Linked DNA regions of Homo sapiens: all the other regions are linked to region 2. The links come from fine-mapping of genetic effects on gene expression. A gene starts in region 2. Each other region holds a variant in brackets. All regions are shown on one strand. Distances are between the middles of the regions.

Region 1 (6,550 bases), 130 kb before region 2:
GCCACACTAGGTGCATCCGACTATGGACACCTTAATTCTGTTGAAAGTATTCTTCCCAAGGGAGTCTTCCAGCTTACCCTTGGTATGAAGGGGAACTCCCTGTTTGCCAAGATGGCAGCTACACTTAACTGTTGGGTTGTTTCCTTGCTGCTTCAACTCCATGTTCTCTACTGTTTTACTCCTTAAAGTCAGACTAAGCCTAATCCCTATCTACATGACAGGCTTTCACTTTGACTTTAGGTCTTCATTATGCAAAATCATGGCCTTATTAAATGAGGCCTTCCCTGGCCACTGTACTAAAAATAAAAATAAAGTGCAACACCTCCCTTCTTGCACTGGAATTCATCCTTATCTGCCTGTTTTCCCTATAGGATGTGTCACCATCTCACATAGTTTTGTTTTACCCTTCCCACTAGAATGTATGCTTGAGAGCAGAGGCTTTTGTTTTGTTCATTGCTCTGTCTTCAATGTCTAACTTTAGGAGAAAGCCTGACACATAGTGTTTACTCACTAAATTACATACACATATTTAATACAGATTTACATGCACATATATACATGCATACATGTAATGAATTCAGAGATTACTTTTCTTGTAGTCTGAAGACCATATGTTGCCAGATCTTTCAACTATTCGTTTTTGAAGCCACAGACCTATTTTTTTCTAAATGTTCCAACTTATGTGTATCTTTATTTTTTCCAAAGTAATACATTTACGTAGCTTAAAAGTCATAGTTCTAGAAGATACGTAGTGAAAATACTGTGCTCCTGCTCCACTACTCACCTGAACATCCATTCCTTAAAGTTAACTACTACTGTTGCTTCAGCTATTTATCTGTCTCCATGTCTAAATAACATGCTTCCGCTGCTTGATTTTTTAAAAATGTAATTTAAAGAAATACATGTAACAAATACCATCTTAGGTGTGCAGTAGCATTAAGTACATTCACTTCGTTGTGCTACATCACCACCATCCATTCACAGAACAACTCATTTTGTAAAATGGAAACTGTACCTATTAAACTCCCATTTCTTCCTGACCTAACCCTTGGCAAAGAGTTTCTTGGTGAGGTTGACTACTTTAGGTACCTCATACTATAGGTAAGAATTATACAGAATTTGGCCTTTTATGACTGGCTTATTTTTCTTTTTTTTTTGTGGTGGTTTTGTTTTGTTTTGTTTTAGATGGAGGCTTGCTCTGTCTCGCCCAGGCTGGAGTGCAGTGGAGTGATCCCGGCTCACTGCAGCCTCTGCCTCCGGGTTTCAACTTTTTTTTTTTTTTTTTTAAAGTAGAGTCGGGATTTCGCCATGTTGGCCAGGCTGGTCTCAAACTCCTGACCTCAGGTGATCCACCGGTCTCAGCCTCCCAAAGTGCTGGGATTACAGGCGTGAGCCACTGCGCCCGGCCTGTGCCTGGCTTATTTTGTTTAGCCTAATGTCCTTCAGGTTTATGCATGTTGTAGCACGTGTCAGAATTTTCTTCTCTTTTAAGGCTAAATGATACTCAGTTGTATGTGCAGATTACATTTTGTTTATCCCTTCATCAGTGGACACTTGGGTTGCTTCCACCTTTTGGCTATGGCAAATGATGCTATGAACATAGATACACAAATATCAAACAGATGGGTGTACGGATATTAAAGAGTCCTTGCTTTCAGTTATTTGGGATACATACTCAGAATTGCTGGATCATACGGTAATTCTTTTAATAATTTTTTTTGAAGAACCACCACACTGTTTTTCACAGAGGCTGCACCATTTTACATTCCTACCACAAGAGTTCCAATTGCTGCATATCCACACTAATGCTTGTTATTTATTGTCTTCTTCCTATAGATTAATGAGGATGTAATTCCTGTATACACACAAACCCAACACTTCTTTTCTCCTCCTCTGTCATAGTTCTATCGTAGTAACCCCCAAATAGAAAACTGGCAAAGGACTCACATCCAATTTTTTTTTTTTTTTTTTTTTTTTTGTGAGATGGAGTCACTCTGTCGCCGAGGCTGGAGGGCAGTGGCGTGATCTCGGCTCACTGCAACCTCCGCCTCCCAAATTCATGCAATTCTCCCTGCCTCAACCTCCCAAGTAGCCGGGATTACAGGCGCCCGCCACCGTGCCCGGCTAAGTTTTGTATTATTTAGCCCGGCCCATATCCAAATTTAAAGAAACAAAATTTGTTTTAAAAATTCCTACCAAAAATATAGGCAACTCAAAAAAAATATGGGTGGCTGGGCATGGCGGCCCAACGCCTGTAATCTCAGCACTTTGGGAGGCTGAGGCGGGTGGATCCTTTGAACCCAGGAGTTTGAGACTAGCCTGGGTAACATGGTGAAACTCCATCTGTACAAAAAAAGTTAGCTGGGCATGGCGGCCCACACCTGTAGTCCCAGCTACTTGGGAGGCTGAGGTGGAAGTATCGCTTGAGCCCAGGAGGTCAAGACTGCGGTGAGTCAAGCTCACACCACTGCACTCCGCAAATGGGTAAAAGCCTTTTCACAAAAGATATACAAATAAATAATCATCTGAAAGGTGCTCAACATCATTATCAGGTAAATGAAAATTAAAGCCACAAGAAGATCACTACACACCTGATCTGAATGGCTAAAAATAAATTGACAATACCATCATGGGATGAACATGGAGCAAATGGAACTTGGACGCACTGCCAGTAGTAACATGATTCAAGCATTTTGAAAAATTATTTGGTGGTTTCTAATAAATCTAAATATATATACTTGCCCTATGACCCAGCTTTCTACTTTCTAGAATATACTCAAAGAAAATGAGAACATAGGTCCAAAAGAAGATGTGGGAGAATGTTCATAGGCAGTTCTATTCAAATTAGTTTAAAACTAGAAGTGATCCAAATATCCATAAACAAGAGAATGGACAATATATGATATATTTATAAAGTATTATGACACTTAGGGAAAAAATTCAGTGAATGTGCACAACACAGATGAATCTAAAAAAATATTCCCGAGTAAAAGAAGCCAGACAAAACTACATATTGTAGAATATATTTAAAATGTTGAGTCTTATTACTAAGAGACCTTTCTACATTCTTATAAAAATTGTTCTACTTTATATTACATAATTTTAAAAAGGGATCTGTAATGTATTTTAATATGCCAGAATTTTGATATATTTTTAATTGTGGGAAAAATTTAAAGACCAAATCATTACTTACCTGATAAATATTTCCTTTTGTATGGGACTAAAATACAAAAGAAAATAAAAATTAGAATTTAATTATGCTTTATTATAGGATTGACTTTAAACATGTTCACAATCATTAAAAATAAACCCTTTTATTAGTAGCTTAATATCAATATATTCATAGCCTAAAATCCATATTTCTTTGCCTCATTAGTTGTCTCTGTTGTCTATTTTGAACTTAGTTTTTAAAGAAAGATGTAGAGGGCTAACAACATGCATTAGCTTGGTTGGTGGAAAAGAATACGGGATCTTGAGGAAAAGACAATAATGAGGTAAAGGAAAAAAGAGGATTCTGGTTGGAGAGTCTAGAAAACAAATGTCATAAAATTAAACAACTGTGACCCTAACTACCTTAGTATGGATGTACTCACTATTTCTGATGTTTTGAAGTTATAGTTTAATTAAAAACTTT[G/A]TTTATGTAATGGCACCCTGAGGTGCAGAACCTGAAAAGAACCAATTTTTTAAAAAACAAATATTTGAAGTTGAATACTGCTACCATAAAACTATGACGAACATTTTGATAATCACTGTAAAACTAACAGTAGTCAAGGATCCTGCTGTAGCAAGTAAAGAAATGTACATACTTCCATATGTAAAGAAAGGAAATAAAGCAGGATGTGGAGTTTTGGTTTACAGTTGAAGTAGAAGGGGAAAATACTGAGGATGCAAAATGGGGAAATGGTTGTTTATATCATGTTTTAAGCACCCTAAATTCATATTTTGAAACATTAAAAAAACTAAAAACTTTTTTTGTAGAGATGGTGGTCTTGCTATGTTGACCCAGGCTGCCTCAGCCTCAAAAAGTGCTGGGATTACAAGCATGAGCCACTGTACCCAGCCCACATTTTGAAAATTTAATTTTCTTTAATGAGAAAACAGTTACTTTCTAAAACTTAGAATAACAAACTGTGTAGTGTTTTAACAAATAACATCAAAATACTGTTGTGGGCCAGGATAACTTCTGTTCATTAAAAAACCTTCTGGGCCGGGCACAGTGGCTCACGTCTGTAATCCTAACACTTTGGGAGGCTGAGGTGGGCAGATCACAAGGTCAGGAGTTCGAGACCAGCCTGGCCAATATGGTGAAACCCCATCTCTACTAAAAAATACAAAAATTAGCCGGGCATGGTGGCGGGTGCCTGTAGTCCCAGCTACTTGGGAGGCTGAGGCAGGAGAATCGCTTGAAGCCAGGAGGCAGAGGTTGCAGTGAGCCAAGATCGCGCCACCGCACTCCAGCCTGGGCGACAGAGAGAGACTGCATCGCAAAAAAAAAAAAAAAAAAAAAAAAAACCTTCTGACGGGTCAGAAGAAAACATTTTAATTCCAAATAAATTATAAACTATGATGTAGTTTTTGTTTGCCTAAACAAAGGATGTTCTTATGGAGAATCTAATTCCTTGTAAAGTAACACGAGAATTCTGGAATTATACATGATTACTCTTCACCACTTCTGCTCACTCAAATCACATGCAAAGAGATTATAATAATTCCTCTGAACAAGAAATTTTTGACCTCTTGGAAACACTAAGCAGACAGAATAAAAGTATGCCTATTTCATGTGATCTGGCCTTACCTCCTAAATGTAAGAGAATTACAATTTGAGTTCCAAGAGACTTAAGAGCAAACCATCCTATTAATATATTCTGAAGTCTTATTCCCTCTATTTTTTTTTTTCTTTTTGAGACAGAGTGTTGCTCTGTTGCCCAGGCTTACTGCAGCCTCAACCTCCCAGGCTCAATTGATCCTCCCACCTCAGGCTCCCATGTATTTCGGACCGCAGGTGCACGCCACCATGCCCAGCTGATTTTTGTATTTTTTGTAGAGATGAGTTTTCGCCATGTTGCTCAAGCTGGTCTTCAACTCCTGCGCTCAAGCAATCCAGTGCCTCAGTTTACCATAATGCTGGGATTGCAGGCGTGAGCCACTGTGCCTAGCCTTATTCTATTTATTGAGGCACACTTATCTCAAAATTATTTTAAAACCAGTCCTACTTTCTCTGCCCCTTCTAGAATGGAAAAACACCTTCGGTCATACTTACTAGCTGTTTTGCATAGTGTTCCTTCCACAGAAGAAACTTCACAATTTCCTTTTTTCCATTCACCTGTCTTGATGTGCAGAAAAGCACAGGTGTCAACTAAATCCTCATCATCATCTTGGTCTGTCCACTTATCAAATGTCATATTTGAATTATCAAACCACTTGAAACTCGCATCTGTCAATTAAGGAATATTTTCAACATTATGACAGTTTTAAAAGGAGTTCAAGCCAAAAAGGGTGTAGGATTAAAGGTGGAAAGTTACTAAGGTATGTCTGGTCTAAACTTCTGATTGTAGGATTAAAATTAGAAGGAGGAATATATCCTGTGTACAGCCAAATCATCAAAAGCTATCGATTTAAGAGGTTTCTGAAGATGATCCAATTTTCGCAAAAATATATACATGTATAATATTCTCATGGGAAAAAAGTCAAGAAAAATAGTTAAATATTAATAGTAACCTTAGTAATTTCATTTCATTTGAAAATGTTTACATATGTACTTTTATATTTGTACATATGTACTTTGTCTACAGTAATGATAAATATGTTTATATAATAGAACCGTGATAATTTAGTCTATCCTTAGCCTATTAGTTGCAGACACTAATACTTACCTTTATGATCATGCTATATTACAAAAATACTGAGCCTTAGAGCCACATTTTAATCCAGACAAGAATCAACTGTGGCTTTCATCTGTGTAACTCATTGAGCTATGCAGATACAAGCTGTGGTATGATCATAGGTGCACACTGAAAATTTAACACCTGGAGGCCACAGGAATCATCAACTTGAACCAGAGAATTGAAAAGCCATCAGTTTTGCTACATTAAAAAAAGAACAACAAAGTCACGTCCCACGAGGTAAATATCACTTACCATCTGTGTCATAAAACATGCCTAGTAGGATATCATCTGGGCCTTTCCATTGCTTTTTCAAAGTATCCAGTATAAAAGCATTTTCTTCTTCATTATGTATGCTTATCATGTCCGCTCCTGAAATTATTTTAAAGAGAAAAAAAGTCAGCATATTCCAGAATCAGTGAAAATCACTAGGTACATAAAAATAATAAATAGTTGCTTAACTTTCTATATATATTAGAGCTGGACAATAAACTTTGATCTTACAGTTCATACAAGCTAATAAGGTTACAGGGACATGTCTTGGCTCTCAGCCTCTAATATGATTTATGTCATTGAAATTATGTTTATGTCTCAGTATACTTTACATAATTTTTTTTAAGGGATGGAAAATAGTTGTAGGGGCTGGGCGTGGTGGCTCATGCCTGTAA
Region 2 (6,550 bases):
AGCAACGACAAGAGAAACAACAACAGCAACAACAATCCTTTAAAGCTTAAAGTTATTTTAAATCTGAATTTTAAAAGTATTCCACAGGATTGCAGCTAAGGATGTTTGCCATAGCAGCTTTCATCCTTCACACTTTTTTTTTTGAGATGGAGTCTTGCTCTGTTGCCCAGGCTGGAGTGCAGTGGCACAATCTCAGCTAACTGCAACCTCCGCCTCCCAGGTTCAAGTGATTCTCATGCCCCAGCCTCCCAAGTAGCTGAGATTACAGGTGCCTGCCACCACACCCGGGTAATTTTTGTATTTTTAGTAGAGATGGGGTTTCACCATGTTGGCCAAGCTGGTCTCGAACTCCTGACCTCAGGTGATCCACCCACTTCGGCCTCCCAAAATGCTGGGATTATAGGCATGAGATACCGTGCCCAGCCACATCCCTCACACTTTCTTCTTTGACATTCCTCTGCCATTTTCTACTTGATGGACACAGGCTGGGAAGACAGTCAACAAAAAAGGAAAATGTGCTATAAGATTACTACTCACACTTTCTCTCATGGCCTTCTCCCACAATTCAATAGCTACTCAGATCTCTGATCTACATCTTTTCCAAAGTATTCTCTCTTGCCTCTCCAAAATAAATCTTGCATTCCAAAGTATCAAAAATTACAGAAGAAAAAAGAAGTCTGCTCCTGCAGGAGACGTGCCCATCACCCTTGTTGGAAACAGCCCCTCTCCTGCCCTGTAGTCTTGCTGCTGTCTTTCCCGGGCATTCTGCTTTGTGTGCTGGATCCCAAACAGGTGAACTGGGGAAGCAGCAGCTTTGCCTTCCTTTGCAGTTTGCAGTTCTGGATTTTTCAAAATTTTTGTAGAATCCAATGGATTAGCTACATTTCTTTATACAGTGGAAAAAGCAGGAGTTAGGAGTCCGAGATTGAAACACTAAAACACTACAGGAGAGGTGTGGAGTAGCTATGTTAAAGTGGAGCTGCCAAACTTCCTAACAAACTGCTACATCTCTGAATATAGATGTTTTTCTCAGACTAATCCCTTGTTTGAACCAAGTATGCAATTTCAATGTGACACTTATAGTGGTCACTTAGTACAGATCTTAATTATTGATATACTTAAAGGAAACTTATTAGCCTCCATATATAAGGTATGTATAAACATACATTAGATAGGGAGAGTCCTATCCTTTCATGATGCTTCCCCGTATCTTTCTTTAACCTTAGCAGGAGCTGTTGAAACTGCCTCAGTCTTACGACCCTTATTGGGATAGTAGGTTGAAGAGCTGGAAGGAGGACTGAGAAAGTGTGAACATAATCCCTTATTTAGAAAATTTGGTACAGAAGGGCATATAAGCTATTTTAGAAATATACTTTGAAAAGGTAATTACAGAGTAGATTTTATTGTATAAAACTTATTTTATAAAATAGATTCTTTATCAATAGCTTTCTACTGGGTTTTGTTCACTTTACAACTTTATACCAGTCCTCAATGGAGTTTTAATATTTACCTCCAAGTACAATATTGGGGCAAATCTAAAAGGCAGAAGTTGATGAAGAGAAGCCTCATTACCCCCTAGATGCATTTTGTATATGCTTCATGTTATATAAATTCTCCAGTGGTGTTTGAGAGAAAATGGCTAAGTAGCATTACCATAAATTGAAAATAAATTTTTAGTATTTTTACATCCATCAAAGGCAAATCATCTCTTTCAGTGTTTTCTTATTGTCTGATCACTAAATAATTCCTGCCTTTGGTCCCTAGACCAAAGAGCTTCACACATTCCAAAGAGAAGCTGGATATTGACATTTATAACCACAGACAAATGGATAGGGAAATAGCTTGGGAAAACAAGAAGGATGAAGATGGCAGCATTTATAATTTCAGGGGAACCGTCCATAGATCACATATTAAGCATTTTGTAGAGTCTCTACCATGTGTTCGGAATGTACAGGTAGGTGCAGCAAGAGAGAATCAGAAGTCTAGGTTTGTTAGTTCAAAAACAGGTCCTGAAGTGACAGTTGAGTCCATGGCAATGTCCAGGGAGTCAGAAAGTCTTCACGCACGATTGGGTGGTGTTGGCTGGTGAAAACCTCAGGAGTCCCTGATGGATTGGTTTACTTCAAGCTGTTAGCTCTCCAAGCAGGCAAAAATGTAAACTAAGCACCTGGCATCTCTCCAAGGACACAGAGGGGCTCCTTCAGTGTTTGGGTAATAGAGGCCACCTGCACAAGCCTAGCCGTGCACATGTGACGAGGTGCATGCCATCACCAGCATCATGAAGCGGACACTCTTGCCAAACAATTGACCCAAATGGCTGGGGGTTCAAAATTCCAGTGCTTCCCCAAACAAGGCCACAAGTCTGCTCTGAGGGTGAGAGAAAATCGATCAGAGTAGCTGCTAGGAGTAAGGAAGGATACAGGATAACAAAACCTGTGGGGACCTAGCACAGGGGGAACAGAGTTAAACCTGGTGCTTTTTGCTTTGGGTCAGTGATAAAGGGCAGTGATTGCAGAGATTGCAAGAATTAGGGAAATCCTGAAATTTGTGAAGGAGATAAAAACAGGACTGAAGCAGATGTCGATGGGAACCAAGAGGTTAGTGATTGAAAAGTTAGTGCATTTTCACTGTAGTTAGTTGCTGCAGTGAACTTTTCCACCTTGGATTGTGGGGCAGGCAGAATAAATTATCAAGGCAATAAAGGATCTTATTTTAAAGGATTCTTTTGGTAGTTCCTAGCACACAGGGTCAAAGGAGAATAGAGAAGTGTGACTCAGAGCAGGGTTCATTTCCAGGTCCTTGCTGTAGATAGGATGATGCCATTCACACTCTGAGAAATCTCTTCCCATCGCTCTCCGAAGGAAGTCTAAACCAGATGGTAACTTAGCTTAGCTGCAAAGAAAATAAGAGCCACCAACAATTTAATGTTTTTCAAACTGCCTGGACAATCTTTTCCTTCCTCATACAGGCACGATAACAGAAGTGGCCGGTGGAGGGTGGCCCATTGAGTGCCCATGATGCAGTCCAACCAAGAAACAAAGTTCTCTGCACACCCCTCGCCCAGGCAAAAAGAGAAAGTAAAAGCAACCGGTTGCTGCCAAGGGGTGTGGTGTGGTGGGGCTGGCACTACCCTGAACATCAATGAAGGCTGTCTGTTTCTGGTCCTGCTTCCGCAGTGAGAGGCAGCAGGTCCCCAAGCAGGCGACCTGCCCTTCACCGTGAGGCTGTCAGCCTTGGGGGAGCGGGGTCATTTGGAGCTGATAAACCAATGAGAAGAAAGGTTTGTTGCTCTAGGCGGTGGGTGAGGGCATCATAGCTGACTCTTGGTCTTGGTCACTTTCGGAGGAGATGGTTTATTTAACCTGACTTCCTTCCTGATGCGCACCGTAGGCGCAGTGAAATCCGGGAATCGTGGGGAATCCTTGGCGCTGTGGGTGGAGGCTCCTCTTGGCCCTGTGGCCAAGGTGACCAAGGGCCGAAGGAAAAGCGAGAACGGGAGGGACGGGACGCAAGAGGGCAGATGGGGAACCCCATACTCCAGCAACATTATATAAGAGAGGCGACGATGGAGCAGCGCACCCGGCCAAAAAAGCCTCCGTGCGCCTACTCTACGGTGCACCGCGTCCCCTCTGCACCAGAAGGGCCCTGTCCTCCCACATCCACCGCGCCCTCCTCCGGGCCCCCGAGGGCACTGGGGCGCTTCCTCTGCCAGACCTCCCCTGCGACTCACTCTTCCGGCTCCAGAGCCCCCCCGCCCCAACAGCAAAGCAGCCGTGACCTGCCCCAGGGGCGCAGCCCTGCCCCAGGCTGGAAGGCAGCAGAGCTGTGGCGTCGAGGCACCCAGCGGACTGCGGGGCTGGCGTGCCCGCGGTTACCTGCGCGGCCAGAGGGCTCCGCGAGATCGAAGAACCAGAAGAGCAGCATGAGGAGCCCCGCCGGGCGGCGAGGGGTCGCCCAGCCTGTCCTCATCCTGAGCTGGCGCAAGCCTTCCGGCCGGGTCCTCGGGCGCACGCGGCTCCCGCCCCGCCTGCTGAGCGCGGCCTGCCCCGCCCGCACCTCTGTCTAGGCCTCTGGGGGCGCCCCGGCCCCGCCCCCGCCGCCCTCGGCCAATCAGACGTGCGTCTCCTCGGCCCCGGGGCGGAGCGGGCCAGGTGTGGGAAATGAACAGGGCTGGGCGCTAGATACCTGCGTGGGGTAGGACCCGCGAGGAAGAGGTACGTGCGGATCGGTGGGAGAGCCAGGCACCAGACAGGCTCCTGCACTGGAGGGTTCGGTCCCCGCCTCTTCATCAGCCAAGCTGGGGAGATGCGGCCCTTACTGGGACTTGGCACCGCCCTGGTGGGTGGGTTCTATCAGTTTAGAACCTTGGCCTCTGCCTGGCGCACTGTGGTCAGGGACGACTTCTCCATTCCAGCCTGGACTGGAAAGGGACCCATGATCTCTTCTACCCCGGAGGAGGAAGTGAGCACCTGCCCTGTGGGTGGCTGCGGCCAAGCCTAAGAATTCAGTCGTCCTTGGCAACGTCTTGGGTATTTTGACAGTGCAAACAAAGGTGGAATAATGGTACACTGCAGTTCTACCCATAGTTGTTAAAGAATTAAAAGCAAGAATTACTAGAATGACCAAACGACACTTCCAAGGATGACTTATGCTTTATAAAAAGTTGACCTTTGCGAGTAAGCTCTTTGCTTAATAATTTAATGATAATAATAATTAGCTGGTAGAAATGTAGAAGTCTGCATGCAGAACCAGAAATTTCATGTCCCACTCACTCTCTTCCTGTGGACACTGCTATCATTATAAAGAGGCCAAATTCTTAATGACCTAAGTTGCTCAAATGTGAATGTTTTATACTTTTAAATCTCGTCTTTGCTGAGCACATAATGTGTACTTGAGGTGGCCTCCATCCTTGTTGCATGAGGATGCAAAGACCTAGGTTGCTCTTCCTGACTCCCACTGCCAAGGTTTCACAGTTGGCTCCCAAACCTGCTCTGTCCTCTCCCCAGGGTCTGGCCTTTCAGTTCCATAGATATAGTGAGCACCTGCCATCACAGGATCTGGGCACGCCATGGAACAGAAGGACAAAAAGACAACATCTCTGCCCTCCCCTGAATACTGGGGAGACTGAGGCACTGTGATGGATAATATTGTCAGCTCGATTGATATGAACGAATGCAAAGTATTGTTCCTGGGTGTGTCTGTGAGGGTGTTGCCAAGGAGATTAACAGTGGACTGGGAGAGGCGGACCAGCCCTCAGTCTGGGTGGGCACCATCTCATCAGCTGCCAGCATGGCTAGAATAAAAGCAGGCAGAAGTTGGAAGGACTTGACTGGCTGAGTCTCCTGGCCTTCACCTTTCTCCCGTGCTAGATGCTTCCTACCCTCGAACATCGGACTCCAGGTTCTTCAGCTTTTGGACTCTTAGACCTATAAAAGTGGTTTGTCAGGGGATCTCTGGCCTTCGGCCACAGACTGAAGGCTGCACTGTTGGCTTCCCTACTTCTGAGGTTTTGGAACTCGGACTGGCTTCTTTGTTCCTCAGCTTGCAGACAGCCTATTGTGGGACTTCACCTTGTGATCATATGAGTCAATACTCCTTAATAAACTCCCTTTCATATATACATGTATCCTATTAGTCCTGTCCCTCTAGAGAACCCTAATACAGGCACACTCAGTGACACAGGGCAGAATGAATGGGGAAACTCTGACAAATGTTGAGGGAAGGCAACATCTTAGCTGGGTCTTAAAGAATGGGTAGGAATTTGAGCAGGCACAGCTGGTGGGAGAAAACCAGTGACAGGGCAGAGGCCAGAAAATGCAAGCAGAGTCAGAAGACAGTCCAGAGTCCAGGGTAGCTGCCCTGCGGGGGGTGTGTCTGTGAGAGAGATCAAAGTGGTTGTGGTGGGGGCCCCAGTGGAAATGACAGCAGAAAGGTGAGTTGTGTCTGTTTTGTGAAGGGCCTTGAATTTATTCTAAGGCACAGATGGTGGGAAGTTCTGAGTAGGAGAACCTGCCACTGACCTGATCCCCTCTGCCTCTGTGGCTGCCTGCCTTTCTTTCTGATCCTGCCCAGCTTGGAGCTCCTTGAGGGCAGTGGTCTTGCCGTATTCATTATCACATCCTCAACACTGGGCACAGGGCCTGTCCCAAAGTCAGCTCTCAATAAATGTTAGTTTAATCGATGGATGGATTCCTAGGGCCACCACCTTAGCCTAGGGCCATATGAGCTCCTACTTGCATTATATTGCAATAATTTATCAATTGACCTCACTGCCAACAGTTATTATCCTCTCTGGCAAATGAATCCTTCTAAACACTGTTTGGAACATGCCACTTTTCTACTCAAATCCTTTCAGTGCTATTTGCATATAGCAGGAGCTCCTAAATGCTACTTAAGGGAAATTATGAAACCCTGAAATTTTATGCAGCTTTATAAATGCACTATGTTTTGAGGAGGAGGAGGAAGGGTACAAGGCTTTCATGAGAATCCCAGAGAAGCCCATGATACAAAAAGAAAACTCTAAGACAAAAAGCAAGTACCTCTACAATTT
Region 3 (5,792 bases), 50 kb before region 2:
TAATCATCATCTCCTTATGTCAAGAAACACTGTTGAAAAATTCATCTCTTTCTTGGCAGGATATTTTAATTCAAATTTATATCAGCTATGCAAATTAACACAGTACTATTACCTTGAGGAATTAAAAAGATTGTCCTAATTTTAAAAAGTTAAAATGTACCCCTAGCTTTACTACAGATGCTTTCAGCTGTCAGACACATCTCTTTTTTCCCTTTTTCACATTATGATCACTTTAGTGTAGAGTGGTATGTCCCAAATTGTGTTCCTTGAAATATCTTACAAAAAAAATTTTTTTTTCAGCTTTCTTATAGACTGGAGTGGCCAATGAGCCAAGCTACCCAATGTGGACAAACTCATCGGGTAACTTCTAGAAAAGACCCTAGAGAGAACACCCTGAATTTAAGCTCGGAAGCCTTATATTAAGGATGGCAGAGCAAAACCAAAAGAAGCCTGATTTTGAAGACTTCATGGTGTTTCCACACAAACCTGCTTATCTTCAAATGTCTTTAATGTGACAGAATAAATCTTTTCTCATACTGTAGCAACCTCTTTTCAGAAGCCAAATGCATTTCCTAATACATACATATACCAACATGGATTATGCATCTCAAAGAGGCAGATACAGAATGCAGCATTTCTCAAACCTATTTAATCATAAAACCCCCATTTGGAGGCAAGATCAATGATTAACATTTTGTAGCATGTGTGTAGTCCCCAAAAAGTAGTTTGTGAAATGCTGGTCTAATTTGATTGGCAGATGCTGCTTGGATGCTCTCCTTGAGGGGAAAAAGAAAACACAAGCCAGAAATTAAGTCAGTTTCCTATAAGGCCATAGAGACAGTCCTGACTATTCAATGCATCCCAATCCCTCAACAGATCAACTTAAGCAATTTAAGTGTTAGTAGCAACAAAATAGAAATGCTGCACTTTAAAAGACCTGTAGGCATGACCAACTTGAGAGTTAATTCTTGATATCATCCACGGTTTCTGGCAACACAGAGGGCCAGGTGGGATCCTGAAACATGCAGAGTCTATTTCAGTGATGTTGTCACTAATGGGTTGCCATTCTGCCATAGGCTATAAAACCAGCATGGAAGCAATCATTGTTGCATAATGTAGCAATTCTCTTTTTACCTTATTCTGAAAAGGAATCCATTGCTCAGAACATTGCACTTTAGCTGCAGAATCTGGGCTGTATTTCTCTAACGAAGAAACATTATATTTTTCACAGATGAAGGGCAACTTGGTACTACAGTCTGTTGGTTTACCTAAGTCTGAGAAATGAAAAGCCAGGATTACTATGGTGAGAATTTTTCAGTCAGTACATTTTTATTTTGTTTTGTGTGTTTTTTTTTGTTTTTTTTTTTTTGAGACAGAGTCTCGCTCTGTTGCCCGGGGCTGGAGTGCAGTGGTGCAATGTTGGCTTACTGCATCCTCCACCTCCCAGATTCAAGTGATTCTCATACTTCAGCCTCCCAAGAAGCTGGGATTGCAGGTGCATGCTGCCACACCTGGCTAATTTTTGTATTTTTAGTAGAGACAGGGATTCACCACGTTGGCCAGGCTGGTCTCGAACTCCTTGCCTCAAGTGATTTGCCTGCCTCAGCCTCCCAAAGTGCTGGGATTACAGGCATGAGCCACCGTGCCCGGCCAAGTCAGCACATTTTAAAAGCAACCCAGTAGTAAAGAAAGGCTCTTGAAATCAATCTTTCCTAAATGCTTAAAATATATTCCCTTTCTTCTCTAGCCATTTCTGTCTTCTATGATTATTTTTATCAGTAGGTTACAGCATACCAATACTGTCTATGAAACAGCACACATTTTGTGTGACTACCATACCATCCCAGGGTGAAGGCAGGAGGTAGGAAGAGAGTTGAAGGGGCAATGTAATCAGGGGGAGGGGACTTAAACTATATTTTAGAACTGCTGCCTGCTTATCTTTGAAAATTTGCTTAGACACTTATCAGTTAGGAAAGTGGTAAGTTTATTACTAAGTAACTGCTTTAGGATAAAGGAAGTTAAAATATTCACAGTGAAAAGTACCTTTATTTGCATTGGGAATTTGAGCTATTGTTGCTAATAATAAATCAGAATAAGATGAAATTACCAAACATATAATTAAAAGGAAAACAAGATTAAGCTAGAAACTGAACCTGAACTTCACATATTACATAATCAGCATTAAAGGATTTAGAATTAACTTTACCGATAAGCCAAGTCTTGGCAGACATGTACAAGCATTCCTCTCCAAATGTCACAGGAAAGCGGTGCCATGGATATCGTGAGCTAAAAGAAAATGACAGATTTGACAACTCGTAATGTAATTAGGTGTTCCATTTTTTTCTTTTTACTGTAAGTTATTTTATTTCTAAATTTAATGTTAATACCATTACTCTATACCCCTTTTTTCTTGATGCTAACATGCAAAAGGGCTTGGTTTCTCTAATTTAGGCAGTTTATGGATTAATATTCAAACTACTTATAAATAGAAATCCATTTAGTAAAAGGAACTGCTTCTTTTAAGTGATAACTTTACAAAGGTAGAATCAATGATGTCACCTACTATGTAAAATGATCATCTATTGGCCACTCGCTAATTCTTATCCACCACTTCTGTCCATCACCAGATATCTGAAAA[A/G]CAAGCCAAACATCCATCCTTATATGTGCTGAGCTTTCTTGAGGGTTTTGATTCGAATACATTGTCTTACTATAATCACTAACCACTAAAATTTCCAGACATTCCTTACTTAGATTTCAAAATTATACAAACTAGAACCTTTTGCCAAAGAGTAGTTGAAATTTCTCAGTATATTTACAGATCCTATTGTGGGTACAGGAAATATGGTAGCTGTAATTATGGGCATATATTAATTAGACTAATACTTTAAGTGGGCATACAGTATCCTATTGCAATTGATTATAAATTTAAAAATACAGAAATTATTTTTCTTCCCAAAAATTATTTTGCAAAGTTACTTATTAGTAGAAACAGAAACTCAAGTTAACTATAAAGTTGACTTTTAGTAAAAAATGTGACAGGAAATTAGAATGATCTATATTATCTACTGATGTTTACCTTATAAAGTGACATTTATTATTAATCTTGTATATTTTAAAACATAAGCAATTCTACTTAATTTTTCTAACATGAAACAAATTTGGATGCTGTGAGGCAGATTTTACATTAAAGAAAAATTTAACTTTTGTAGATTTTGGCAAAATTTTTGTAATATTTTTAAATGGAATAAATACAAAAATAAGAAATATATTTAAAATATATTCTTTTAAATTACATTTGCTATTTTGTTTTTGATGGCTTTTAGTCCCACAAAAGATGTTATAGTTGCAAGAAAGCTGTGATTGCTGGCACAGTACAGGACGGCTTCTTCATAGTTTAGGTGAAGATCAGCAACAAACCAATATTCACTTCCTTCAATTATAAGTGGAGGTCCATGAATTCCAGCACGGTCTAAAGAAGAAGAAGAAAAAGATTAGAATTATGACTATGCAAAGCAAACTGTGTCCTCTAAGCATGAGTTAATGTTCAAAACTATAAATAGTAATTCAGATTACCGGCCCTCTCTGGCTGGGGCAGTACTGACTACAAGGAACAAGAGATTCCTGAGCCAGTGACTCTGCCACTCCCCTACACTCACAGGGAAGGAAAAAGTCACCCTCATCACCTCATCCCATACCAGTCGCTCACCTTCCTTGCCTGGAGAAATTTTGTCTCACTTGAAGATGTATAGAGAAGAAGCTGGCACTTAAATAATTAACTAAATGCATTAGTGACAAGGTAAAAGCAGCTTTGGTTAAATTTCAGTTTTCTTAACTCACCTGGATTGTACCAGTCTGGTGTTTTTGGAGTACGGCCTGTATGAGGAAGAAAGCAAGTGGCATTAGTATTCCATGACAGATCAGGGTATACTATAAGTACGGCCTTTAATGTAGCTCGAAAGGACTTGCAGTATTGTTGAGTCTTGTCCATTTCTGGCCAACCCACTTCACGTTTTGATCACTTTAGTTGTATTTTGTAGGGCCGATGCTAAACCTGCTTCAGGAGAAATCCAAAAGGCAGATACGTTAAATATTAATGAAGTATTTCTAGCAGTCTTTTACCTTGTGTCACAGAGGTCACAAAAGAAGTAAGACAGATAAAATATAGCTAAGAATTAGAAAGTAAAAACAAGTAAATAATGATATTGTATGTGTTACACAGAAGCATAAGAAGTAGGAACCAAAATAACGGTCATTGAAAAGGGAAGTTATTCAGGAACCACTTCTGCATCTAATGAAACAGGTTAACTGTTCTGTAAACTTAGGTTGATAGAGTTCATTGTCTTCCAAGATATCCTTGGAAACAATGTACAATGCTCCAGTGTTGAACCTTTTGAGAAGATGAGACAAAACTGAGAGGAAAATAATTAAAAGTGACTCAGGATTCCCAGATGGAAACGGAGTAAATAATGGCATGCTACACAGAATTCCGGGTTGGAAGCTGGGCGGGTCAGTGTGCAAATGCCCTTATGCATTTTGCTGCCATGGTATTTCGGATGAGTGGCTTAACCCTCTCTGAGCCTTGATTTTCTCCTCTATGAAAACTAGATGGCTACCTGACTCACAGAGAGTGAAGGTCACGTGTGATGCCCTGGAGGAAGTGGCCAGCACAGGACCAGGCACAGGGAAGTTCCCCATGGGAGCCTATTTGCGTTCCTCCCCCTTTTCATTCTGGCCACAGATCACACTGGCTTCAAGTCAAAGACATCATTTGCTTAATCTTAGAAATTACAGAGTAAAATAGCTGGTCTTAATTTTGGTGTGGCATGTGAGCCTCAGGCAGGCATCAGAAGACCTGACTCAGAGGACTGCCTGAATAGCCAGCATCTTTAGTCTCTCTCTGAGCCAGTTCTATTCGTATTGGATAATTTCCAACAATAATGTTGCAAGTCAGTTCAAAATGTACATAGTTTCTTGTCTGTAATCTTGTCAAAGACTTCTGATTATTTGTGTGTGGGGGAGGGAAAGCTATGGCTAACCTTTAAATATCTTTAAATTAGTGAGAAAAGTAGGATGCAAGGTGTTTTTTATACAAGATTGCAAACATGTATGTGTGTACAAGGTATCAAGAAATACAATAAAAATTGCTATGTCTGGGTAATGGCATCATAGGTAATTTTCCTAAAAACACTTTTATGAGCCTTATTTTTGACACAGTTTTCTCAAAAAATAATATTTAAAAAGTACAAATATCCACTGTGGTTGAGGTAACTTCAAATTTACAGGTTGTCAAAATATCTCTTTTAGGGAAGAGAGGATTAATTAGAACCAAGTAATAAAAAGGCAAGAGCCAGAGAAGAGGCATGGTGATTTAGAATACATAAGAGGAAAACTTCTTTAAGAAAACCAGAAAATACAGATGAATACAAGTTGAGTAAACTTAGGCTGCTCTAATAACCAAGAAAATATCCAACCAGCTGAATGCATCACATCGTAACTTAGAAAGTTAGGTACAGTACGGTCAAAAAAGGGTGAACATAACATTTAAACCCTGGAGCAAGCAATCATTGATTTCTTCAAGTGATTGGGACAGGCTGAGAACAGGAGTTTAGTTTTTTATTTTATTTCTGCATGGGGATAATGGAGGTGGAATTATTTAGATTTGTTCGATTAATTGATTTATATTTTTAAGTGGGTTAATTCCTTTCTCTCTTGTTAAAAAATATATATTAAAAAAAATATATATACACCTCCACATGCCCTTCATACTATTTCCTCTGGTGGCTAATTTGCCA
Region 4 (6,550 bases), 330 kb before region 2:
CAAAACAAAAACAAAAATCAGATTCTCCTTTATGAAACACAGAGATTAGCATGAATGTACCTGCCTCTCTCTTAATATTATTTATCCTAAGCAACATGAGAATGAGGATTGTGTTTAATTGGAATTTTCTTTTCCAGAGATTAACAGGGTGCTTAGAAGATGAGAAGTGCTCACTACCTGCTGGAAAATAAAAAGAAATATTATGAGGGCAAAATATCAAAAAGAGGACCAGAAAGTGGGAAACGAGATAGTTTTCTAGAAAACTGAAAAAGGACTAAAAAATTAGGGGTGGGGTATAACTGAATTGGGCCAAAGATTATAAGTGACCTTGAAGAAAGTAATTTCAGATAAAATAGCATGAAAAGTTAAATTTTGGATTATTTTGGCCAGGATTGCCAAAATAATCTTGAAAAGGAAGAATAAAGTTGGAAGGCTCACACTTTCTGATTTCAATTTACTACAAAGCTATAGTAATCAAAGCAGAGTAGCATGGCTTAATGCTAGACCTTTAGATCAACAGAATAGAATTGAGATTCAAGAAACAAACCCTTGCTTACATGTACAGTCAAATGATATTTGACAAGGGTGCCAAAACAATTCAATGGGGAAAGAATATCTTTTCAACAAAAGGTGCTGGAACAACTGAATATCCACATGTAAAAGAAGGAAACTGGACCCCTACCTCACACCATACACAAAAAGGAACTAAGAATGAATCAATGACCCAAACGTAAGAGGTAAAAACGTAAAATTCCTGGAAGAAAATAAAGGCGTAAATCTTCTTGACCTTGGATTAGGCAATGTTTACTTAGATATGGCATCAAAAGCACAAGCAATCAAAGGAAAAATAGATAACGTGGACTTTTGTCCTTCAAAGGACACTATCAAGAAAGTGAAAAGACAACCTACAGAATGGAAGAAAATATTTGTATATCATATATCTGAAGACAGTTGTATCCAAAATATATTTTTAAAAAACACTTATAACTACTCAATAATTAAAAACAACACAGCCAGGCACAGGTGGCTCACATCCATAATCCTAGCACTTTGGGAGGACAAGGTAGGTAGATCGCTTGAGCCCAAGAGTTCAAGACCAGCCTGGGCAACATGGCAAAATCCCTTACCTACAAAAAAATATAAAAATTGGCTGGGTGTGTTGGCATGTGCCCATAGTCCCAGCTACTTGGGTGGCTGAGGGGGAGGATCCCTAGAGCCTGGGAGGTTGAGCCTACAGTGAGCCATGATGTGCCACTGCACTCTACCCAGGATGACACAGTGAGACCCAGACCCTGACAGATGGAGAGACTGACAGACACACACACACACACACACATACACACACACACACACACACACACACACACAGCACAATTTTAAAATGGGCAAAGGGTTTGAATAGATATTTTATCAAAAGAAGATACACAAATGGCCAATAAGCATAAGAAAAGATGCTCAATATCATTAGTCATCAGAGAAATGCAAATCAAAACCACGAGATGGCACTTCACACTCACTAGAATGGCTAAAAAACAAACAAACAAACAAAACAAAACAAAAAAAACCTAATAAGTGTTTGTAAGGATGTGGGGAAACTGGAACCCTTACACAATGCCAGTGGGATTGCAAAACATTGCAGCCACTTTAGAAAACATTTTGGCAGTTTCTCAATAAGTTAAACAGAGTTATGTCACCCAGCAATTCCATTCCTAGTTATATGCACAAGAGAACTACAAACATATGTCCATAAAAAAACCTACACGTATGTAGGTTTTGTACATGAATGTTCACAGCAACATTATTCATAATTATTCAAGTGTTCATCAAATAATAAATGGATAAACAAAATATGACACACTCATACAATGAAATATTATTTGGTAAGAAAATGAAATGAAGGCTGGGCGCGGTGGCTCACGCCTGTAATCCCGGCACTTTGGGAGGCTGAGGCAGGTGGATGACGAGGTCAAAAATTCGAGATCAGCCTAACCCCATCTCTATTAAAAATACAAAAATTAGCTGGGCATGGTGGCATGCGCCTGTAATCCCAGCTACTCAAGAAGCTGAGGCAGGAGAATCGCTTGAATCCAGGAGGCGGAGGCTGCAGTGAGCCAAGATCCTACCACTGCATTCCAGCCTGGGTAACACAGCAAGACTCCATCTCAAAAAAAAAAGAAAAGAAAAGAAAGAAAAAAGAAAATAAAATGAAGTTGTAATACATGCTGCAACAAGGATGAACTTGGAAAGCATTATGTTACATGACAGAAGCCAGTCACAAAAAACCATATATTGTATAATTCCACTTACATGCAATGTCCAGCGTAGGCAAATCCATAGAGAGAGAAAGTAGGATAGTGGGTAATGGGAGTTGGGGGAACAGGAAATGGAGAATGACTCCACAGGGAGTCCTATGCTTCTATGCTCAGGACCCTTTTGGACCTTCCCTCATTCATACCAGGGTTACTCCAGCCTGGGCGACAGAGCAACACTCTGCCTCCCAAAGAAAAAAAACCATGCAGAAAGGGAGAGTAGATAGCCTGAAAGAGGTTAAAATATACTGGATAAAAAATAGAAGTGAAGTCAATTCAACAGGCATGTATCAAGGGCTTACCATCTTCTAGACACAGAGTTATAAAGAGTTATAATATTAGGGATATAAAGGTAAATGGAGGAATTCATTAAGTTGAGAAGGCTTAACAAACCTTTGCCTCCAAAGAAGTCAACACCCAAATGATCCAAATGAAATTACAACTGCTTTTAAGGTTGGACCACAGTATTTGCCACTACTTAATTATTGAACCTCTCTAAGATTCCTAACCTGTAAAGTGAGGAATGGAGACCCTAGATCACTCACTTCTAAAATTTGAAGAGTCAAAACAATGTTGGTAGACTAGAAATTGGAATAATAGGTCAAAATCCACAAAAAGCATGATTATATGTACTCCATTAACATGATTATAAAACTCTTGAAGTGATACTAGTATGTACTCAAGAATATC[A/G]TTTTCAAAAGAAAAAAATTTTAACATGATTGAATATGAAATCTCCAAAAATACATTCTTAGAAAATCTAAGAATCTATATGTTTTCCTTCATTCATTTTAGACTACATGAAGTTTGGAGGACAGAAAGCTCAATTCTACAAACAGCAGCCTAAAATGCTAGGACCAAAATTCACATACATTAGTAAAATATCTTTCCTTTAAGATTTAGAAACTTAAAGAATTTCTGAGAAACAAACAGCTTCACAACATTACTAAGAATATAAATTAGCTCCACAATGTTATTTAAAAGGTCAACTAAACCTAGCTGCTCTTACTAAGAATCAGTAAGGGAAATCTGAATTTGATTCCTAGATTTACTATACACTAGCTTTGTAATCTTGGGCAAGTTACTGAGTCACATCTCAGTTTCCTCAACTGTAAGTAGAACAAATATACCCACCTAAAAGAATTCTTGTGAGGATTACACAAATAAATATATGGAAAGCTCTAACAGCATAACATCGATGTGGTCAAAAGATGTTGACAGATAATTTACAGAAAAAAATAAAAGAGATCAGTCTGGTCAACAAAGTGAGACCCCGTCTTTACAAAAAATAAAAACGAACAAATAAATAAGAAAGAAATAAAGCTGACCAATACATGAAAATAAACTAAATCTTGCAGAGAAATGCAAATTTGAACAAATTTGAGTTATCATCATGCACCAATCAGATTATCAAAGGTTTAAAAAAAAAAAAAAAAGAACCCAGAATTGGTAGTTTTAGAGTGAGTGTAAATTGATACCACCACTCTGAAAGGCAGTTCAGTAACAAGTATAAAAGTTTTGGCCAGGCACGGTGGCTCACACCTGTAATCCCAGTACTTTGGGAGGCTGAGGCAGGTGGATCACGAGGTCGGGAGTTCGAGACCAGCCTGGCTAACATGGTGAAACCCCGTCTCTACTAAAAATACAAAAAATTAGCCGGGCATGGTGGCAAATGCCTGTAGTCCCAGCTACTTGGGAGGCTGAGGCAGGAGAATCGCTTGAACCCAGGAGGCAGAGGTTGCGGTGAGCCGAGATCACGCCACTGCACTCCAGCCTGGGCTACAGAGTGAGACTGTGTCTCAAAAAAAAAAAAAAAAAAAAAAGGAAAGTGTGGCCAGGCACGGTGGCTCACACCTGTATTCTCAGCCCTTTGGGAGAACAAGGTTGGAAGACTACTTGAGCCCAGGAGTTCAAGAGCAGCCTAGGCAACACAGTGAGACCCTCATTTTTCCAAAAAATTTTAAAAATTAGTTGGGTGCAGTGGTGTATGCCTCTAGTCCCAGCTACTCGGAAGGCTGAGGCAGGAGGATCACTTGAGCCCAGGGGGTCAAGGCTGCAGTGAGCCATGATGGCACCACTGCACTCCATCCTAGGTGACAGAGTGAGATCCTATCTCTAAAACAAATTTACTTAAAAAATAACATGTTCCAAAACATATTATTGATTAAAAAGGAAAATTACAAACCAGTAGAGTATGACCTTATTTTTATAAATGTGTGTGTATATTTACAGGGAAGAGCATTTACCACGTTAAAGAGGTTAGCTCCAAATAGTAGAATTTTAAGTGACTTAACTGTCTTTAAAAAATTATTTCTGCATTAGTTACACTTTCTGTAAGTATGCATTACCTTTATAATCAGAAAAAAACTATTTTGATTTCTTTAAATAAATTTGAAAAACAAAGAACTAAAAGAGGATACCAGTTCTTGGTCCAATGATTGTTTTCACTACACAAAATGATCTGCTTGATCCAAGCAAATGTTCAGTTAGGGAGGAAAAATACTTTAAATGTGCCCTAAGATTAGAGAAACCTGACAGCCTAGGGAAAGATGAAAAATAATAACAATTATGTGACAAGACTCAAGAATATCTCTATCTTAAAACGTATCTGCTTCAGTTTAGATTGACCAAAGTCCTTTTATACACCACAAGAAATAAAAGTAGGTACCTTAATGGGAAGGAGAAAGGCTAAAGAAATAGCTAAGAAACTTACTAAACACACTGAAACTTATAATACTGCTTTTCAAGCTATTCTTAAAGTAATTAAAAGAATTATTCAACATGAGAAAAGAACTAGTTCATTTATGTTAGAGGACTTAAGTAATTTAAAGAAAGCTACATCAAATTGTCTGAAACCTCACTTGTTTTCACTTGTCATTAATTACCTACCAAGATATCACCTGCTGACAAAAAGAAAAACCTAAAGACATAGAAACTTTAACTTTCCCTAGTATGAACACATGAAAACTGTTCTTTTCCCTTATAAAAACTCTAGTGCTTAGCTTTCTTATTTGAATTCAGGAAAGAGTACTAAATGAAGACAAAAATTCAAAGCAAAAGGAACAACACTGAACAACAGAGTCAAGAAACAGACTGTGGTTTCAATTTTCTACTAACTCTTAATTTTATAAGTAAAACAAGAAGATTGACAAGAGCTTCAAATACTTTTAATGGAGGATCAGTGATACAATACACTCTTTGAAAAATTCACAGTTCATAAAAAAAAGAAAAGTTCTATGGTAAAATAAGTTCAGAAAATTGTGCACACCCTTTGCCCTTTTTGGAGATCCATAATGCAGAACAGAAAATACTTCTGTATAACCCAATGTTTCCCAAAATGAGAGACAAACAAAATGTCCCTCAACAAAGGAATGATTTAAAAATGCTTACATTAGACAGATCAACGAGACAAAAAGTTAACAAGGATATCCAGGAATTGAACTCAGCTCTGCACCAAGCAGACCTAATAGACATCTACAGAACTCTCCACCCCAAATCAACAGAATATACATTCTTCTCAGCAACACATCGCACTTATTCCAAAATTGACCACACAGTTGGAAGTAAAGCACTCCTCAGCAAATGTAAAAGAACAGAAATTTTAACAACTGTCTCTAGGACCACAGTGCAATCAAACTAGGAATCAGGATTAAGAAACTCACTCAAAACCGCTTAACTACATGGAAACCGAACAACCTGCTCCTCAATGACTACTGGGTACATAACGAGATGAAGGCAGAAATAAAGATGTTCTTTGAAACCAATGAGAACAAAGACACAACATACCACCACCTCTGGGACACATTTAAAGCAGTGTGTAGAGGGAAATTTATAGCACTAAATGCCCATGAGAAAGCAGGAAAGATCTAAAATTGACACCCTAACGTCACAATTAAAAGAACTACATAAGCAACAGCAAACAAATTCAAAAGCTAGCAGAAGACAACAAATAACTAAGATCAGAGCAGAACTGAAGGAGACAGAGACACAAAAAAACCCTTCAAAAAATCAATGAATCCAGCAGCTGGTTTTTTGAAAACATCAACAAAACTGATAGATCGCTAGCAAGACTAATAAAGAAGAAAAGAGAGAAGAATCAAATAGACGCAATAAAAAAATGACAAACGGGGTATCACCACCGATCCCCCAGAAATACAAACTACCATCAGAGAATACTATAAACACCTCTACGCAAATAAACAAGAAAATCTAGAAGAAATGGATAAATTCCTGGACACATACAC
Region 5 (6,550 bases), 95 kb before region 2:
ACATAATAAATCTGATTGTTTCATAGCGCTAACATAGAATTCAAACTCATCGTCAGATCAAAAGAAACACTTAAGTGATTTCTTTTCAAATGTAAGTGTTTTCCTATTCATTCAAATCCTCTTCATTGTGATAGGAATTTTCTTCCAAAGACATTAATGCGCTATGATTATTCTCACATTCCCCCTTCCTAACACCAATTTGGGAACATCACTACTTGTATATTATCCTACTTTGATAGCAAATTGCTAAAAGCTATAAATTTTTGTTTTTGACTTACCTGGGGCTAAATAAAGTGTTATTTGCTTCAAAATGATTTAAGTCTCTCAGATGAGTTCATTTAGTGCAGCTGCTGTTCCAAGACCCTTATCTGCATACTGCCCAGATGGATTCGCTCTGTTCCATGACTTTAAATACCATTGCTATGCACACTACACATCTCGTCCCTCTATGGATAACTCAAAATGGCCAACGTAGAACTTTTGATTTGCAACACCCTAACTCTGCTCCCACCCAACCCCCCAAATCTTCCAGTTGCTTTCCATTCCACTCAGAATAAAACCAGAACTCAAGCCTTGCTTCCAAAGCTCTGTATGTCTAGCACCTGCCTACCTTTCAGTTCTTCCCTGAGCGCTCAGCCAACTTGTTCTGCCTTAGGCTCTTTGCTCCAACTGGTACCTCTGTCTGTTATGCCCTTTCCCTTGAAGTTTGCTTGGCTTGATTTTTTAGATCTTAGCTTCGGTGTCTCCTGCTTCTAGGCTTCTTCCCTGGTTTCCTAATCTAGAGTAGCTATCCACTGAGTCTCCATCACATAGAGTTTATAACTATTTGATATTTTCCTCTCTTTAAAAAATTGACCTGTTTACTTATCTTTCTTCACCAGATTGTAATCTCTGTGAGAACAGGTACCTTATCTGTCTTGTTCTCAGGTGCATCCCAGTGTGCAAAACAGGGCATGGCATATAGTAGACACTCTATTTACTGTCTCAGTGTGTGTATACATGGATACTGATTACCTAGAATTGAGGTTTTATCTTTAATATTTATATACAAGAAGCAAAAGTTTTATGCAAGATCTTTAAAAATGTTACTGTGAAAAATTTGGAGCTCTTTCTCCAGAAATGAAGTTAATATAACATTTTAATGGTAATTTTATGTATCAATTCATAATGAAATGTAAGTTCAAATTATGATTTTTTATAGATACCCTGAATGTTTTCAATAACTAAATCCAGTTTTGCATTGTTTTAAAATTAACCATGAGTTTTATGGGATTAGGAAGAAAGGAAGCAAATTAACTGCAGAAATAGACCTTTAAGCTTTTATATAATCAAACTATAGAATAAAATACATCTCAAGAACATTTTAAAAGAAATTACTTCCCTAATACCCTGGCAACTTCTGTTTTTCTTAGGAAAGAATTATATAAAATGTAGACTGGAGTCCTGGACATCTTGTGCAGTTATCGTCCCTTGTAATCTATTTTTCAGGGGGAAATCTCTATGACTTAATCAAGATAGTTGGATATACTTTAAGGACTAAATACTTCAAGACTAAATACAGAATTTTGTACATAATTGGATTGTACATTTATTTCCTGACTGTTCTGCAAAAAGTCTCCTAAGGACAGGTTCCATACTTACCCAGAGGCACTTTGCAGACAACTCTTCCAAAACCATGTTCACATTCAACTTTTTTCCAAGTTTCATTTGAAGCTATCAACATGCTACATCTTCCAACACCACTCTTACTTTTATTTTCCCATTTGACAAATGTCACTTCTGATCCATCTAACCAACTCCAAGACTGGTCTGAAGAAAGAAATTAAATACAACTATGTCTACTGCCACTAAACTAGTAAGTTACAAGCATGGGTTCATGTAACTCATCAGAACTGTGCTGTCCAATATGAGAGCCACTTGTTAAAATAAAATGCATTAAAAATGAAAAAAATAAAATCAGTTCTTCAGTTGCACTAGTCACATTTCAAGTGCTCAAGAGCCACATGTGGCCAGTGACTACTATATTGGACAGTGCAGATATAGAACATTTCTGTCTTTGTAGAAAGTTCTATTGGACAACACAGATAGAGAATGTGGTGTTTCCGTTAAAGTGCAGAATGCTTGCACATTTATTTTGTGAGGGAGAGATTTCTAAGGACCCATATCCTTCCCCTACTCTAATTGTAAAAAGTCATATCATTAAAGATATGCTGGTGGAAGAGGAAGGGTGCAGGAATCTCCATCCCCACCTTTCTCCCACACCACCACCAGGACTCCATTTTTGCTTTCCAGCTGAAGTGGCACCACCTTGTGGTGACAGTGTAAACACGATTTAGGATTCATTTAGATGGACAACTTGGAATCCTTTTATTTTTTGACAAGTACTTAACATTTTAAAATTCACATTTTAATAATTTAAAATTCAACTTTGCATAAAATGTGAAAAACCTTATCTTCTGTCATATTTGTACTCTTATTTCTACCAATTCCAAGTTCACCTAAACCCTGTATCTACTATTTCGTATTAAAAAATCCTTCCACAAATTTTCTTTGAATCAATTATCTGCAATTTTATAGGTTGGCGCAAAAGTAATGGCAAAAGCTGCAATTACTTTCACACCAACCTAACACTAAGACAGTTTTTAAAGATTACTATTAAGACATAATTTTAACCAGTGGTAAAAATATTCTTAGAGAGAAGGGAATAACAAGAAGATAACTTTCTGAATAACGAAGTTATAAGCTGCAAATCCATGCGGTGACAGGCACTAGAACTCTAAGAGAAGGCAGGCATGGGTTCCTTGTGGGGACACAGACATTCCTGTGGAGAAGAAAATGTCCTGATGTTGATCCAAGGATCCCAGAAATAAGCCTCTAGAAAGATTCCACTTTATTTAACAGGATTTTCTGTGTCATTAGTGGTTTCCGTCATTGCTAAGTTAACTCATGGATTCATTCAAAATTTATAACCATCCAGAACAGCCAGCGACCTAGCTTATTTATCCAGAAGAGGCATCTGAATTAGCCACTACTTAACATTCTTTAGCAAGGACGACTTGTTATTTAGGATGAGTTAGAACTCTCTTTGCACACTACACATACAATTATTTCACTTACCAACAGAATGTTGAGATAATCCAAGCCAAACTCTCATGGTAATGTTATTATTTTCCCTCATCAGTCTGCTCACAAATTTATTCTCATCTTCATCTTTTATGGAAACGATAGTTGCAGAGTGATCTGTTGAAAGAAAACACATTCTCAATTAGCTTTATGGAAACTAGAGAAGTAGTTTATTCTCAACTAGCCATTTGAAAAATACATATATTATTAACAAGATCATTGATAAATTCAAGCCTTACACAGAGACAGTTTTTAAAAACTGGTATTTAGGTCAAAATTTTATAAGTACTTCAAAAAAATTACTTCCAAACA[C/T]GTATAAAGAAATTTTGTGTTTCTTCAAAATATTTATCTGGCAATATTTTTTTGGCCCTGGAACTGCCTACCCCTGAGACCTCTCTGACTGTTCAGATGAGAAAAGAGAAAGAGTTGTGTAACCTCCCAATGCCACTTAGCTAGGATATGTGGGAACTGGGATTTGAACCCAGACCCTCATGCCTCCAAGTCTTAAGTGCTTAACCTACATATTAGTTTTACAGTAAACCATTCTGTTTTCTCCTTTAGGAGAAAAAGGTTTATGACTTTCAAAACATACATATATCTTACAACAGTTTCCATCATGTGTATTCAGGTATAAAACCGAATGGTTCCCACACAAAAGTTCCCGGTAACTACAAGATTTTTCAATCAGTCAAGTGTCTCCACAACGGTTATCAGAATAAATTAGATAAATGCCATCCATCTACCTGGCTAATTTGCTACCCAAGGAAGCAGGTAAACAAGTTTTGGTCTTTGAAATACTCTAGGTAGTTCCCCTAGAAGTCATTTTACAGTTTGACTATGGATCAAATTTGTCACGGGAAAGAGCCAATCATTGCTACTCTTTCTAAAATAGCTAAATCTGAAGGCAAAAAGCACTGCCCTTTATGGTGGTCAGAGGATGTGGCCAATCCTATTGCAGAACGGATGGACAACCATACTACTTTGATTTGTTACCCTGGTGAGGCTAAGCTTATGTATTAATAACTAAGCAATGGAACAACTATAATTTTTATTTACTACTTAGCTAACTTTACAAAAATTTTACCTCTTAATTCCTTTTTCTAAGCATATCTAGCTATAGGTAAAACCGTTTCCAATCATTTGTCAGTATTTTTACTTAGCAGTTCACTTAGCCACTTTTATTTTATTATTTTACATTTATTATTATTTTTATTATTTATTTTATTTATTTATTTATTTTTGAGATGGAGTCTTGCTCTGTCGCCCAGGCTGGAGCGCAGTGGCACAGTCTTGGCTCACTGCAACCTCCACCTCCCTGGTTCATGTGATTCTCCTGCCTCAGCTTCCCAAGTAGCTGGGATTACAGGTGCACGCCACCACGCCCAGCTAAGTTTTGTATTTTTAGTAGAGACGAGGGCTCGCCATGTTGGTCACGCTAGTCTTTAATGGCTAACCTCAAGTGATCCTCCCACCTCGGCCTCCCAAAGTGCTGGGATTATAGGCGTGAGCCACCGCACCCAGCCACCACTTTAAAATTCTACTTCTTCCAACTTATTATTTTCCATGTACTTATTATTAACATTGATAATTTTTTTTTGAGATAGAGTCTTGCTCTGTCACCCAGGCTGGAGTGCAGTGGTGCCATCTCAGCTCACTGCAACCTCCGCCTCCTGGGTTCAAGCGATTCTCCTGCCTCAGCCTCCCGAGTAGCTGGGACTACAGGTGTGTGCGACCACACCCAGCTAATTTTTGTATTTTTAGTAGAGATAGGGTTTCACCATGTTGGCCAGGATGGTCTTGATCTCTTGACCTCATGATCTGCCCGCCTTGGCCTCCCAAAGTGCTGGGATTACAGGCGTTTTTAATGGCTATTCCAATATTTCATTGAGTTCCTATGTCATCAGATACTTAACCATTTCCCTACCACTGGGCAATTAGTTTATAGCGCTATTAGAAATGGAAAGTGCTTTAAAAATATTTTCAAAAATACAATCATTGCTTCAAATTATATCCTTAAGAAACATTTCTAAAAATTATTGAGTCATAAGAAAATCAACAAATTTTAACTCACCATGTTTTGAACACAATTTTTTGGCCTCTGAAAAACTGTGCAATGCCTGATCAGACTTGTAACAGTGACCCTTGTACTGGATCCACCGTGACCCATTCTCTTTTGCTGCTGGACATCTTGATGAATATGTAAGACGGGACAGCTTTTTAGCTATAAAAATGTTAGACACAGTTGTAACAATGCATGGAAAAAAAAGACTGCCTTTCAAAATCTACTTCAATGTCCCTGATTGGAACTGTTGCGTTTGTGGTTGAGTAGCATTTAACTCATACCAGAGAAAGCCACAGCCCACACTCTATAAATACATATTTTAATTAACTTTTTGGAATACCGTTTAAAAAACCTAGGTGATAGAAGTGGAAAGTGCCTTAGCTTTCTAAGACTGATTTGGACTAAAGTAGAAACAATGAGAAAGACAGACTAGAAAAAGAAGTAAAGACAGGCCAGGCAGACCTGAAAGTACTCTGAAATAATAATTAAAATTATTTCTTTCTTTGGATTCCTTTTTTTGTTTATTATTATTTTTTTTAGTAGAGACGAAGTTTCACCATGCTGGCCAGGCTGGTTTCAAACTCCTCACCTCAAGTGATTTGCCTGCCTCAGGCTCCCAAAGTGCTGGGATTACAGGCGTGACCCCACAGCGCCTAGCCCGTTGGATTCCTTTTTATTTTGATAATCTAAATAAATCTAGTTTTACTTAGTCATAAGAAGAACTATTTTTTAAAAATAGCTAATTTGTTTTACAAAGCATAATACATCAGCACCGCAACATCACTCAAACAAAAAAAGACTAGGAGTGGCTTCTTAGCTCTTAAAAATGCCCCTGGTTTCCATTTAAATTGATTTTTAATTGTGCTGAGTAACAGAAGCAGCCTGAGGAATGCAGCTTGTGCCCTTTAACACCTGTTTTTAATTCCAACCGAAGAGCATATGAAAACTGGAAAGTAAATTGTCAATGTCGTATTAGTGCGGTACAGCTTATCTGAATCAAATATCTGACCTGGTACCAGTCAGTAATCTCAACCCAAACTATTGTTTTGTAATGCATTCTGTATGATCTTTATGTCCTTCAGTAAGTAAAGGCTTTTTCTGTTTTTTTCTCCAAATCTCCACTTGGCAGAGTCCTTATTTGTGGTCTCTGTGATTAGAGAGGAATGGCGGCTACTGTGAGACTCTTTAGTGGCCCTTAGTTCCTTCTGCTGCTTCTCTATCTTCTGTTAGAAACCAGACTTGATCTTTTTGAACTTCGGTTATTTGATTGGCTTTTGCCTCCATTCTTCTCACTAACACACCAATTTGAGTACTAAGTCTTCAGTTCAGCAGTTGGACTCCTGGGTAAGTTTCCCAGCTGCTGCA

The links. PIP is the estimated chance that this variant, and not a neighbour inherited with it, causes the effect. A credible set is the group of variants that fine-mapping cannot tell apart.
Region 1: its variant is the best candidate, but not a certain one, in a credible set for the expression of LY75 in whole blood (INTERVAL, PIP 0.71).
Region 3: its variant is the best candidate, but not a certain one, in a credible set for the expression of LY75 in cerebellar hemisphere (GTEx, PIP 0.78).
Region 4: its variant is the best candidate, but not a certain one, in a credible set for the expression of LY75 in whole blood (INTERVAL, PIP 0.60).
Region 5: its variant is the best candidate, but not a certain one, in a credible set for the expression of LY75 in whole blood (INTERVAL, PIP 0.61).

The regions. Positions count from the first base shown.
Region 1 is chr2:159,774,745-159,781,294 of GRCh38, forward strand. It overlaps LY75-CD302 (LY75-CD302 readthrough), which reads right to left. Exons shown (of 38, transcript NM_001198760.1): 35 at 6,138-6,254; 36 at 5,261-5,434; 37 at 3,194-3,220. It overlaps CD302 (CD302 molecule), which reads right to left. Exons shown (of 6, transcript NM_014880.5): 3 at 6,138-6,254; 4 at 5,261-5,434; 5 at 3,194-3,220. Among named protein-coding and RNA genes, the nearest start is that of CD302, 20 kb to the right of the region's middle. The variant G/A (reference allele first, on the strand shown) is at 3,635.
Region 2 is chr2:159,900,714-159,907,263 of GRCh38, forward strand. LY75 (lymphocyte antigen 75) reads right to left here and starts at 4,043. Exons shown (of 35, transcript NM_002349.4): 1 at 3,876-4,043. The coding sequence starts at 3,969. LY75-CD302 (LY75-CD302 readthrough) reads right to left here and starts at 4,043. Exons shown (of 38, transcript NM_001198760.1): 1 at 3,876-4,043. The coding sequence starts at 3,969. RefSeq lists enhancers at 2,955-3,004, 3,055-3,104, 3,325-3,374, 3,515-3,594 and silencers at 3,775-4,234, 4,004-4,245.
Region 3 is chr2:159,851,067-159,856,858 of GRCh38, forward strand. LY75-CD302 (LY75-CD302 readthrough) reads right to left here. Exons shown (of 38, transcript NM_001198760.1): 17 at 3,838-3,873; 18 at 3,294-3,469; 19 at 2,564-2,631; 20 at 2,207-2,286; 21 at 1,135-1,274. LY75 (lymphocyte antigen 75) reads right to left here. Exons shown (of 35, transcript NM_002349.4): 17 at 3,838-3,873; 18 at 3,294-3,469; 19 at 2,564-2,631; 20 at 2,207-2,286; 21 at 1,135-1,274. Among named protein-coding and RNA genes, the nearest start is that of LY75, 51 kb to the right of the region's middle. The variant A/G (reference allele first, on the strand shown) is at 2,639.
Region 4 is chr2:159,572,806-159,579,355 of GRCh38, forward strand. All of the region lies in intron 1 of BAZ2B (bromodomain adjacent to zinc finger domain 2B), which reads right to left. Among named protein-coding and RNA genes, the nearest start is that of BAZ2B-AS1, 39 kb to the right of the region's middle. The variant A/G (reference allele first, on the strand shown) is at 3,000.
Region 5 is chr2:159,805,332-159,811,881 of GRCh38, forward strand. It overlaps LY75-CD302 (LY75-CD302 readthrough), which reads right to left. Exons shown (of 38, transcript NM_001198760.1): 32 at 5,195-5,344; 33 at 3,118-3,240. It overlaps LY75 (lymphocyte antigen 75), which reads right to left. Exons shown (of 35, transcript NM_002349.4): 32 at 5,195-5,344; 33 at 3,118-3,240; 34 at 1,642-1,809. Among named protein-coding and RNA genes, the nearest start is that of CD302, 10 kb to the left of the region's middle. The variant C/T (reference allele first, on the strand shown) is at 3,436.